Regions from separate parts of the Homo sapiens genome. Here regions 2, 3 and 4 are each linked to region 1. Evidence: fine-mapped expression QTL. A gene starts in region 1. Each other region holds a variant in brackets. All regions are shown on one strand. Distances are between the middles of the regions.

Region 1 (2,688 bases):
TTGAAGGCCAACATGAAAGACACATGGGAAAGTGGTAGCATGGCCACAGAAACCAAGACCTCGCCGCCTTAGCCATTGCTTTAACGTGCCCAGACCTCAGAACCGGGGTTGCCTCGCATAGCAAAAAAAAAAAAAAAAAAAAAAAAAAAAAAAGAGGCAGAGAGAGAGAACTTGTGGAACAGGAGAAATCCAGCAACCTTCCCTAACACTAGAGTGACTGACACTGCTCCATGGCAAATGTGGCCAAACCTTGCTTGTCCATTCATTCATGCAATAGACACTTATGGCTCAACCGCTGTGAGCCAGGCAACATTCTGAAGATTTAGCAGTCAATAGTCATGGAGCTTATTTCTAGATGGGAAGGAAGGAAACTTCCTTTCTTTCCAAACGTCTTTTTTCCCCATCTAAGAGCCCCCTTTAAATGTTACCCGTAGGAGCCTTCAAAACTCTCCCAAATTTCTCCCATAGGCTTCTTTTGACCTTTCTGCTTTATCCCCAAAACCACGCAATTTATGGCTCCAATTTCCCAATACTGGGAAAAGACAAAAGAGACCGAAAGTAAATAGGGCATGCGACATAAAATTCGACGCTCCTTTGTATTTCATGTGCATATCTTCACAGCCACACTGTCAGCACCTCAATAACATGACGGTGTTCCATACTATTTCGTGGCCCCAGTGCTGACTACGGGTCTCTACCTACGGTAGCTGGAAGGTCTTCCTAATCCCAAGGCCTGGCACAGGAATTTAAGGGCAAGTATTCGTCACCGGCATCCTCGTCTCGGGACACTTCTTTCCTGTCCAGGGTGACCTCCTGGACAGGTTCGCTATTAGGCGCCTCGGGAAACAGTGATTTGGGGTGATCTGAAATAAATACCCTTCCCTCTGCCAGGGCCTGCCCGCCTCACCTGCCCTCTGCCAGGACCTGCCTCACTCGCCCCTTCAGCACCTAACGCAGAGCCGCCTCCAGGCGAGCCGGGCTCGGGCAGCATCAGCCCGGCGCCGGGCCCCCGCTCGCGCCCGTGCCCCGGCGCGTTCCGGACCCCGATACCCCTCCCGGCCCGGGATCCGCCGCATCCCCTCTGCCTGTCCCTCCGGGGCTAGCCGCGCCGTCCCACCTCGCAGCCGCGCGCGGTGCAGCGGCCCCGGCTCCCCGCGCCCTCCCCGACTCCTGCAGCGCCGCACCCGCAGGCTCCCGGGTCCCCAGTCCCGGCGCAGCGCGAGCTGCCGTCCCGCACCTCGCGGGCGCGAGGCTCCAGCCCAGCTCGTCTCCCCACAGCCCCGGCGGCGGCCGCAGACCCCCACCTTGCTCACTTCCCCGCCGGAGCAGGGGTCGTCGGGAAGGTCTCCTGCGGCCTCACTCCTCCGCACGCTCCGGCCCAGCCCCCTCGGCTGAGGCAGCGGCAGCGCCTACTCAGGCCCCGGAGCCACCCCCGCGGCGAACGTTCGCAGCGCCCGGCTCGCGCCGCTTCTCCGCCCGGCACGCGCAGCGCCCGCCCCCGGCGCGAGGGCGCGAGGGCGGAGGGCGGAGGGCGGATGGGCGGGCGCGCGCCCAGCGCGAGCGCGCGGCCGGGGGCGTGGCTTCCGCGCGCGGGGAGGGGGCGGGAGCGGCCGAGCAACCCCCCTCCACCCCGCCCCCGCGGCCGCGCCCCGCCCACCGGTCGCCGGCGGGTTCCGGGCAGGCGGGAAGCTGGCTCCATCCAGGCTTCTCCCGCTCGCTGGCGTCGGGCCGGGTGTCTTTCCATCCGCAGGTATCCGTCGGCGGGGTGCCCGGCCCGACGTGACTACCCGACAAAGAATGCAAAGAGCCACCCCGTGAATCATTCTCCGCGCCTGGGTCACAAGCCTGTGCCCGAGTGACCCCCGTGAACTCCGCAAGCTAGCCCAGCCGCGGCGTGCGCCCCGCGCTGCACCAGGTGCCTGTGGGCGCACGATCACGGTCACGGCGCCTGGGCTCGAGGCGCCCCAAACTTAGCGGGGAAAACAGCCATGTACACAACCAAGTCCGATGACCCGTGCAGAGCCAAGCCACGGTGCGATGCTGGCACAGAAGCTAGAGACGACTTCTGCTTGGACGCCGCAGAGGGCTAGAGGCGGCATTTATGGTCAACCTCGAAGGAAGAAAAAGAAGTCCTAGGAGGAAAAAGGGAGGACATTAGGGCTGGGAAAACAGTTTGGGCAAAGGAGCCGGGGCAGCCAGGTTTACCATCTCAGCACCAGCTTTTTTGTGTTTTACTGTTATCCATCTTTTATAGAATTCTTTCCAAACTGTGAAATACAGGAGATGGTGCCAAATTAGAATATAGCAAGGACTTTTTGAATGGTTCAAATGGTCATTCTCAACGTTACTTAAGACTCAAAACAGCAACGTCCTTTGGGGGCTATTGGTCAATGATGAAGGCTGTAAGCTCCAGAGCTAAGCGACCCCAGGCCTGCATGCTGGGAGTATGGTTTTCACTGCTTTTTGGCACCTTACGGTAAGGCAGATCGTGCCACCTCCTGCTGCTGCCTGCCTGCCTGCCTGCCTGCCTTTAGAACACCCTCTTCCTCCTCCTCTCCTCTTTTTATTTTTAAACTCCTATGGTGAAGGAAATGCTGATAACCAACTTTGTTAAATGGGAACAAATAGGTTCCTCAAAAGATGAGCATTTTCTGGCCTGCCGCGGAGGCTCACGCCTGTAATCCCAGC
Region 2 (2,688 bases), 25 kb before region 1:
ACACAATGACAAAGGATTCACTTTCCTAGATAGACATAACATTTTAAAGGTACATGCATCCAAGAATTAAAGTTCTAAAAGCTAACAGAAGTACAGGGAAAAAATTAATACTCTTGATCAAAGCAGAAATATTTAACATCTTTCAGTGATTAAGATCAAGCAATCAAATCACCAAGGACAAAAAAGATTTTAATGAAATATGCAAAAAGCTTGATCTAAATAATGCATAAATCATACACATTATTTTCAAGTACTCATGGAATATTTGGAAAAACACAAAACATAAATTAACAAATTCAAAGATTCTAGATCTTCTCACATTTCCTGACCCAAAACCCAATTAAGCTATACAGGTTTTTTTAACTAAAACATTTACTTTCAAATTTAAAAAGATACTCCAGCCAGGTGCGGTGGCCCACGCTTGTAATCCCAGCACTTTGGGAAGCCGAGGTGGGAGGATCGCTTGAGCCTTGGAGTTCAAGACCAGCCTGGGCAACAGAGCAATACCCTGTCTCTATCAATCAGCCAATCAACCAACCAACTGATCAATAAAAAGATATTTTTAAGTAATTAATAATAAAAATTAGAGGAAATAGAGAACTGATTATGAAAAATAGTAAATATCAGAACACTTGGGATGCAAAAAAAAAAATCACAGGAAAGTTTATTCTTAAATGCTTACATAAGAAAAAAAAGGCTGAAAACAAATGGCCTTAGTAACCCAACATAAGTTGTTAGAAAAATAACAGAATTGCCTAAATAGGAAGAGGAAAATACACAGCACAAATGAGGCAGAGAACAAAGATACACAAAGAGGACCAATAAAGCCAAAAGTCAGTCCAATAAAATTGGCAAACTTTAGAAAAGACAAAATAAAATCAGAATCTCTGAGCATGGAGGCCTGGTATCAAGCACTTTGTACAATCAACTGGAGAGCTTTCATTTTGGCACCAGAGTTGAGGATTACTCTTCTCACCTGTCACCTTTCACTTTTCTTGGTGATTTTATATCATGTAAGAATCATAAACTACCCATTTATTTCTATGTAATATATTCCATTCTTCTTTTAATAAATATTTATCGAGGCACCATCATGATAAACAGATGTGATACTTATTCTCATAATGCTTAGAGTCTACAAGATAAAATATTAAGCAAAGAAAGAATAAGCTAA[T/C]TTCATCGCTGTGTTCATAACAGAAAATGTAAAAACTACTGTCTAAAAACATAAAGGCTTAAGGATATTATATAAAGTCATAATAGTAAAGGTAACACAAGGTTGAAAAATACAAACTATGTAACAAACCTGCACATGTACCCCCTGAATCTAAAAGTTACAATTATTTTTTTAAAAAGAGCTCCAAAAGGAAATATTCTGAAAACTAAGGTTAAAAAAAAACTATTTAAATTATTAAATTATTATGACTGCTTTTATGCTACAATGGCAGAGTTGAGTAGTGTGACAAAGACCTCATCATACAGCCTGCAAATCCTAAAATATTTACTTTCTGGCTCTTTAAGAAAAAGATGGCTGGCCCCAGCACTATATTAACAGAGTAAAGAGGAAAGACATTCATCTCAAGGGAAGCAGAAAACATCTGATAAAATTCAATATTCAGTTATGACTTAAGAAAATAATGATAATGATTCCTGGCAAATTAGGACATATCAGTTCTTTCACCTTTATCTGGTTAACCTGTACCAATCATCACTCTTAACAGTGAAATATTAGAAATATAGAAAGAATAGAAATATTAGAAATATTCCCATGAAAATCAAAAACAAGACGCTATCCTTCCTACCTTTTTTTTTTTTTTTTTTTTTTTTTTTTTGAGACGGAGTCTCGCTCTGTCGCCCAGGCTGGAGTGCAGTGGCGCGATCTTGGCTCACTGCAAGCTCCGCCTCCCAGGTTCACGCCATTCTCCTGCCTCAGCCTCCCAAGTAGCTGGGACTACAGGTGCCTGCCAGCACGCCCAGCTAATTTTTTTGTATTTTTAGTAGAGACGGGGTTTCACCATGTTAGCCAGGATGGTCTCAATCTCCTGATCTCACGACCCGCCTGCCTTGGCCTCCGAAAGTGCTGGCATTATAGGCGTGAGCCACCACACCTGGCCATCCTTCCTACTTTTCAATATAACCTCTGCGGCCCTAACCAGTACACTAGGTCAAGAAAAAGGTATAAGGATTACAATTACAAAAGGAAGAGTCAAAATTGTCTTTCTTTAAAAATGGTATAGTTACTGGCCAGGCACGGTAGTTCATACCTGTAATCCCAGCGTTTTGGGAGGTAGAGGTGGGAGGATCACTTGAGCCCAGGAGTTCGAGACCAGCCAGCCTGGGCACCATAGTGTGAACCCATCACTACGAAAAACAAGAAAATTAGCCAGGCCTGCTGGCACACGCCTGTAGTCCCAGATACTCAGAAGGCTGAGGCGGGAGGATCAATTGAGCCCTGGAGGTTGAGTCTGCAGTGAGCCGTGATCATACCACTGCACTCCAGCCTGAGTGACAGAGCAAGACACAGTCTCAAAGAAAAAGAAAAAAATTGTATAGTTACCTACCTAAGTAGGAATCTATAACCATTAAGACTAATAAGAGTTGAGAAAGAGTACTGGATTCAAAACTGACATACTAAAATCAACATACTAAATGATACAACTGAATAATGGCTGGAAAAAGGTGATTCTGGCA
Region 3 (2,688 bases), 100 kb after region 1:
GCCTCAGTATACTTTGATACTGACCAATTTTTAAAAAATAGCTTAAGATAAAATTTATACTATGCAGCTGGGCACGGCGGCTCACACCTATAATCCCAAAGGGAGCCGAGGCAGGTGGAACACTTGAGGTTAGGAGTTCAAGACCAGCCTGGCCAACATGGTGAAACCCCGCCTCTACTAAAATACAAAAATTAGCTGGGTGTGGTGGCAGACACCTGTAGTCACAGCTACTCAGGAGGCTGAGGCAGGAGAATCACTTGAACCTGGGAGGCGGAGGTTGCAGTAAGCTGAGATCACGCCACTGTACTCTAGCCTGGGCAACACAGTGAGACTCCATCACAGAAGAAAAAATAATATATATATATATAATTCATATACTATACATCTTGCCTAAAGTATAAAATTTGAGGCCTACTTGAGGGTGGAGGTGGAAGGAGGGTGAGGATAAAAAAACTACCTATTAGGTACTATGCTTATTTCCTGGGTGACAAAGTATTCTGTACACCAAGCCCCCATGACATATAATTTACTTATACAAACAACCTGCACATGTACCCCGAACCTAAAACAAAAGTTAAAAAAATTAAAATATTTAAACATATGTACACAGATCACAAGTGGGTAGCACACTGAAGCTTTTTATATTTAAATTTTTTAAAAAAGGATATTTTAAGCCCACAGCTATCTTTTTGTGATCCCAGCCGGTCACAATCTTCAAGGATGAGCACTACATTGACATCTAATAGCAGAGGTTACTTTTACCTCTTTTATACTTTATATAAATATTGTGCAGCAGGAACTCTTTTGTACATGTCTTTTTACATTCTGTAGGCTGTTTTGAATTTATATGTAGTTTTCCATGTTGTGAATCATTTAATAGCATTGAATTCTGTTGTGAAAATATCACACAATTATTCCACTGCTTATGTACATGTGAGTGTTTTTCATCTGGGAATATTAGGAATAGTACTAGTATCTAAATTCTAGAAAATGCATTGGTAACACATAAAGATTTGGGGGTATATATGTAGTAGCGGAATTGTGTTTTATGTTTACATCTCTTCAGTTTTAGGTGATACTGCCAGTTTTCCAAAATGTTTGTACAAAATTTTGAAGCCACTAGCAGTGTATAAGTTTTCTACATCCTTGCCAACACTTGGTATTCTCTGTCATTTTCATTTCAATCTCCTGGTTGCTGTGTTTATATCAGGCTTTCTCAGATTGCTAAGAAAGCTGAACACTTGTTAACATTTTTTTAGTCACTGAATAACCTCTATTTTGAAGACTGTTATTTCATTTTGCCTGTCTTCTCGTGGTTTTATTAATAGCTGTCTTTTTCTTGTTGACTTGTGGTAGTTTTTTATGTATGCTAGATAGATGTCCTTTTTTAGTTAGTCTTCTGATATGGTTTGGCTCTGTGTCCCCACTCAAATCTCATCTTTTTTTTGTTTTTTTGAGATGGAGTTTCGCTCTTGTCACCCAGACTGGAGTGCAATGGCACAATCTCAGCTCACTGCAACCTCTGCTTCTCAGGTTCAAGTGATTCTCCTGCCTCAGCCTCCTGAGTAGCTAGGATTACAGGTGCCCACCA[C/T]CACGCCCAGCTAATTTTTGTATTTTTAGTAGAGACGGGGTTTCACCATGTTGGCCAGGCTGGTCTCAAACTCCTGACCTCAGGTGATCCACCCACCTCAGCCTCCCAAAGTGCTGGGATTACAGGCACGAGCCACTTCGCTGGGCCCCAAATCTCATCTTGAATTGTAATCCCCACGTGTCAGCGGAGTGACCTGTAATCACCCGCTTGTTGAAGTAGGAAGGTGACTGGATCATGGGGGCAGCTTCCCCCACGTTGTTCTCGTGATAGTGAGTTCTCATGAGATCTGATGGTTTTTAAAGGCAGTTTTCCCTGCTCTTTCTCGCTTCTCTCTCCTGCCACCATGTGAAGTTGGTTGCTTCCCCTTCGCCTTCTGCCATGATTGTTGTTTCCTGAGGCCTCCCCAGCCATGTGGAACTAACTATGAGTCAACTAAACCTTTTTCCTTTATAAATTACCCAGTCTCAGGTATTTATAGCAGTGTGAAAACAACCTAATACACCCTCTCTCAGTCTCCTCCTCTTTCTGTCTGAGAAATACTTAAAATATATTTAAATAATCTCATTTGTTATTTCCCCACTATATTAAATATCTTTTGTTTTATTTAAGGAATCATTCTCTATCTTAAGACCACAAAGATGTTATTCTCTGTTTTCTTTTAAAAGCATCAGGATTTAGGTTTAAACTTTGGTTTTGCAATCCATTCAGAGTCAATTTGTTGTGTGACTAGTGATTTAATTTTCCCTAGTAAGCTAACAAAATTAAATTTATTTTGAAAATGTTGGGGAAAAAAGCATAAAATTCAATGGCTTTCAGTATATTCACCAAGTTGTACAATCATCACCCCTCAAAAAACACCATACATGTTAACCGTTACTCATCTTTTACCCCATCTATGTCCGTGGTCCTAGGTAACCAGTAATCTACTTTTTGTCTCTATAAATTTGCCTCTTAGGGATATTTCATATAATGAAATCATACATTAGTGCTCGTTTGTGAATGACTTTTTCAACAAAGTGCTTACTTTTGAAGGCTCATCCATGTTTCAATATGTATAAATACTTTATTCTTTATCGTAAAATAATATTCCATTGCAT
Region 4 (2,688 bases), 37 kb before region 1:
AAACTGTCTCTACTAAAAATACAAAAGTTAGCTGGGTATGGTGGCGGGCGCCTGTAGTTCCAGCTACTGGGGAAGCTGGGGCAGGAGAATCAAACCTAGGAGGCGGAGGTTGCAGTGAGCCAAGATTGCGCCACTGCACTCCAGCCTGAGCGATAGAGCGACTCTGATTCAAAACATAAATAAATAAAAATTTAAAAAATAAAAAACATCCAATGAAGGATGTGCAACATCTCTACAAAGAAATTAAAGACCTAAATAGTTCTAGGGATGACCATATACCACGTTCACAGGAGGAAATCTCAACATTGGCAATATGTCAATTCTCCCCAACTTGATTTACAGATTCAACAGAATCCCAATCAAAATCTCTGCAGGACTGTACAGTAAAAGAGGAATTTTACTGTGTGTAAATTATACTTGAAAAAAGAAATGAATAAAAAAAACACAGGAGAGTTGTTTTGTTGGTTTTAGTAGAAATTGGCAAGCAGATTCTAAAGTTTATATGAAAATGAATGTTAAAAAGACAAGACTGTCCCAGAGAATCTTAAAAAGAAAAGCCGAGCAAAGTAGGAAGACTTGCCTTGCCTGACATCTAGATTTACTAAATTCTAATAGTGGTTACTGCTACAAGAAAGTGCAGTATTAGAACAGTCTGGTATTGGTAGAAGGATAGACAAACAGACCAGGGAACACAAGAGGGTCAAAAAGCAGACCTTCTCATATATGGACACTGCCATGAACATTCTTGTACAGATTCATGAATATGTTCATATTCAATGAATGAATATGGGAAGACTCTTTAGCAGTAAAGAAAATTGTTTATTTTCTTCTGTTTATTGACTGTTTAGTGACCCTTTCAATAAAAAGTGAAGGAACAACTGAAAATACATATGGAAAAACTTGTACAGATTCATGAATATATTCATATTCAATGAATAAGCATGAGAAGACTCTTCAGCATTGAAGAAAATTGTTTATTTTCTTCTGTTTATTGACCCTTTCAACAAAAAGTAAAGGAACAACTGAACATACATATGGAAAAACTTGAAAACTGACTACTACTTATCCTGTACAGTCTCAAAATTTTTTTCAGATCAACTCTAGAATCCTACGTGAAAGGTAACAAAATAAAACCTTTAGAACAATGCATCTTTTACTTTATATTACTAATGCCACTAGCCTAGTCAGGCTCTCAACACTCCACACGTAGACTACTGTTTCCCAAGAATAATTATGGCAGGAATTATAAAAACGAGAGTTGTTCTAAGGCAGTGGTTTTCGAACTTTTTGACCACGAGCACAGAAATATATTTAAATCATCACATACACACATATACACACAAACACATACATATATCTAGATATATAAATATATTTAAATCATCACAGAAATATATTTAAATCATCATGTACACACACAAACACATAGATACATCCAGATATCAGAACACATTTAGCCTTACCACATAAGTTGCATTCTAATATTTTATTTTTCTTCCTTTTTTTTCCTATTATATGTTTTTAATTCTGGCTACAGCCCATCAAAATGATTTCATGAAGCATTAATGGGTAACAACTCACAATGTAAAAAATAATGCTTTGAGAAACCACTGGAGAAAGAAACATCACTTCGATCTAGGATGGCATGATAAACTCTTC[G/A]GAGAGAATTTTAAGTTAAGATTTGTGAGTAAGACTTAAAGTAGAGTAGAATTTATCAGCTGTAACGTGATTTGCCCAAGATTATTTGTTTATAATAAATGGCAAAACCAGGTCTAACAGAGCCCTCAGAAATAATAGCACACATCTACAACCATCTGATCTTTGACAAACCTGACGAAAACAAGAAATGGGGAAAGGATTCCCTATTTAATAAATGGTACTGGGAAAACTGGTTAGCCATATGTCAAAAGCTGAAACTGGATCCCTTCCTTACACCTTATACAAAAATTAATTCAAGATGGATTAAAGACTTAAATGTTAGACCTAAAACCATAAAAACCCTAGAAGAAAACCTAGGCAATACCATTCAGGACACAGGCATGGGCAAGAACTTCATGTCTAAAACACCAAAAGCAATGGCAACAAAATCCAAAATTGACAAATGGGATCTAATTAAACTAAAGAGCTTCTGCACAGCAAAAGAAGCTACCATCAGAGTGAACAGGCAATCTACGGAATGGGAGAAAATTTTTGCCACCTACCCATCTGACAAAGGGCTAATATCCAGAATCTACAAAGAACTTAAACAAATTTACAAGAAAAAATCAAACAACCCCATCAAAAAGTGGGCGAAGGATATGAACAGACACTTCTCAAAAGAAAACATTTATGCAGCCAACAGACACATGAAAAAATGCTCATCATCACTGGCCATGAGAGAAATGCAAATCAAAACCACAATGAGATACCATCTCATGCCAGTTAGAATGGCAATCATTAAAAAGTCAGGAAACAACAGGTGCTGGAGAGGATGTGGAGAAATAGGAACACTTTTACGCTGCTGGTGGGACTGTAAACTAGTTCAACCATTGTGGAAGACAGTGTGGCGATTCCTCAAGGATCTAGAACTAGAAATACCATTTGACCCAGCAATCCCATTACTGGGTATATACCCAAAGGATTATAAATCAGGCTGCTATAAAGACACATGCACACGTATGTTTATTGCAGCACTATTCACAACAGCAA

Evidence for each region.
Region 2: its variant is fine-mapped to the expression of DTNB in whole blood (INTERVAL, PIP 0.92).
Region 3: its variant is fine-mapped to the expression of DTNB in whole blood (TOPMed, PIP above 0.99).
Region 4: its variant is fine-mapped to the expression of DTNB in whole blood (TOPMed, PIP above 0.99).

What each region holds. Positions count from the first base shown.
Region 1 is chr2:25,672,082-25,674,769 of GRCh38, forward strand. It overlaps DTNB (dystrobrevin beta), which reads right to left and starts at 1,496. Exons shown (of 21, transcript NM_021907.5): 1 at 1,305-1,496. RefSeq lists silencers at 945-1,874, 1,239-1,533.
Region 2 is chr2:25,647,194-25,649,881 of GRCh38, forward strand. All of the region lies in intron 2 of DTNB (dystrobrevin beta), which reads right to left. Among named protein-coding and RNA genes, the nearest start is that of DTNB, 25 kb to the right of the region's middle. The variant T/C (reference allele first, on the strand shown) is at 1,175.
Region 3 is chr2:25,773,690-25,776,377 of GRCh38, forward strand. The region is part of intron 5 of ASXL2 (ASXL transcriptional regulator 2); the gene reads right to left. Among named protein-coding and RNA genes, the nearest start is that of DTNB, 100 kb to the left of the region's middle. The variant C/T (reference allele first, on the strand shown) is at 1,592.
Region 4 is chr2:25,635,255-25,637,942 of GRCh38, forward strand. The region is part of intron 3 of DTNB (dystrobrevin beta); the gene reads right to left. Among named protein-coding and RNA genes, the nearest start is that of DTNB, 37 kb to the right of the region's middle. The variant G/A (reference allele first, on the strand shown) is at 1,660.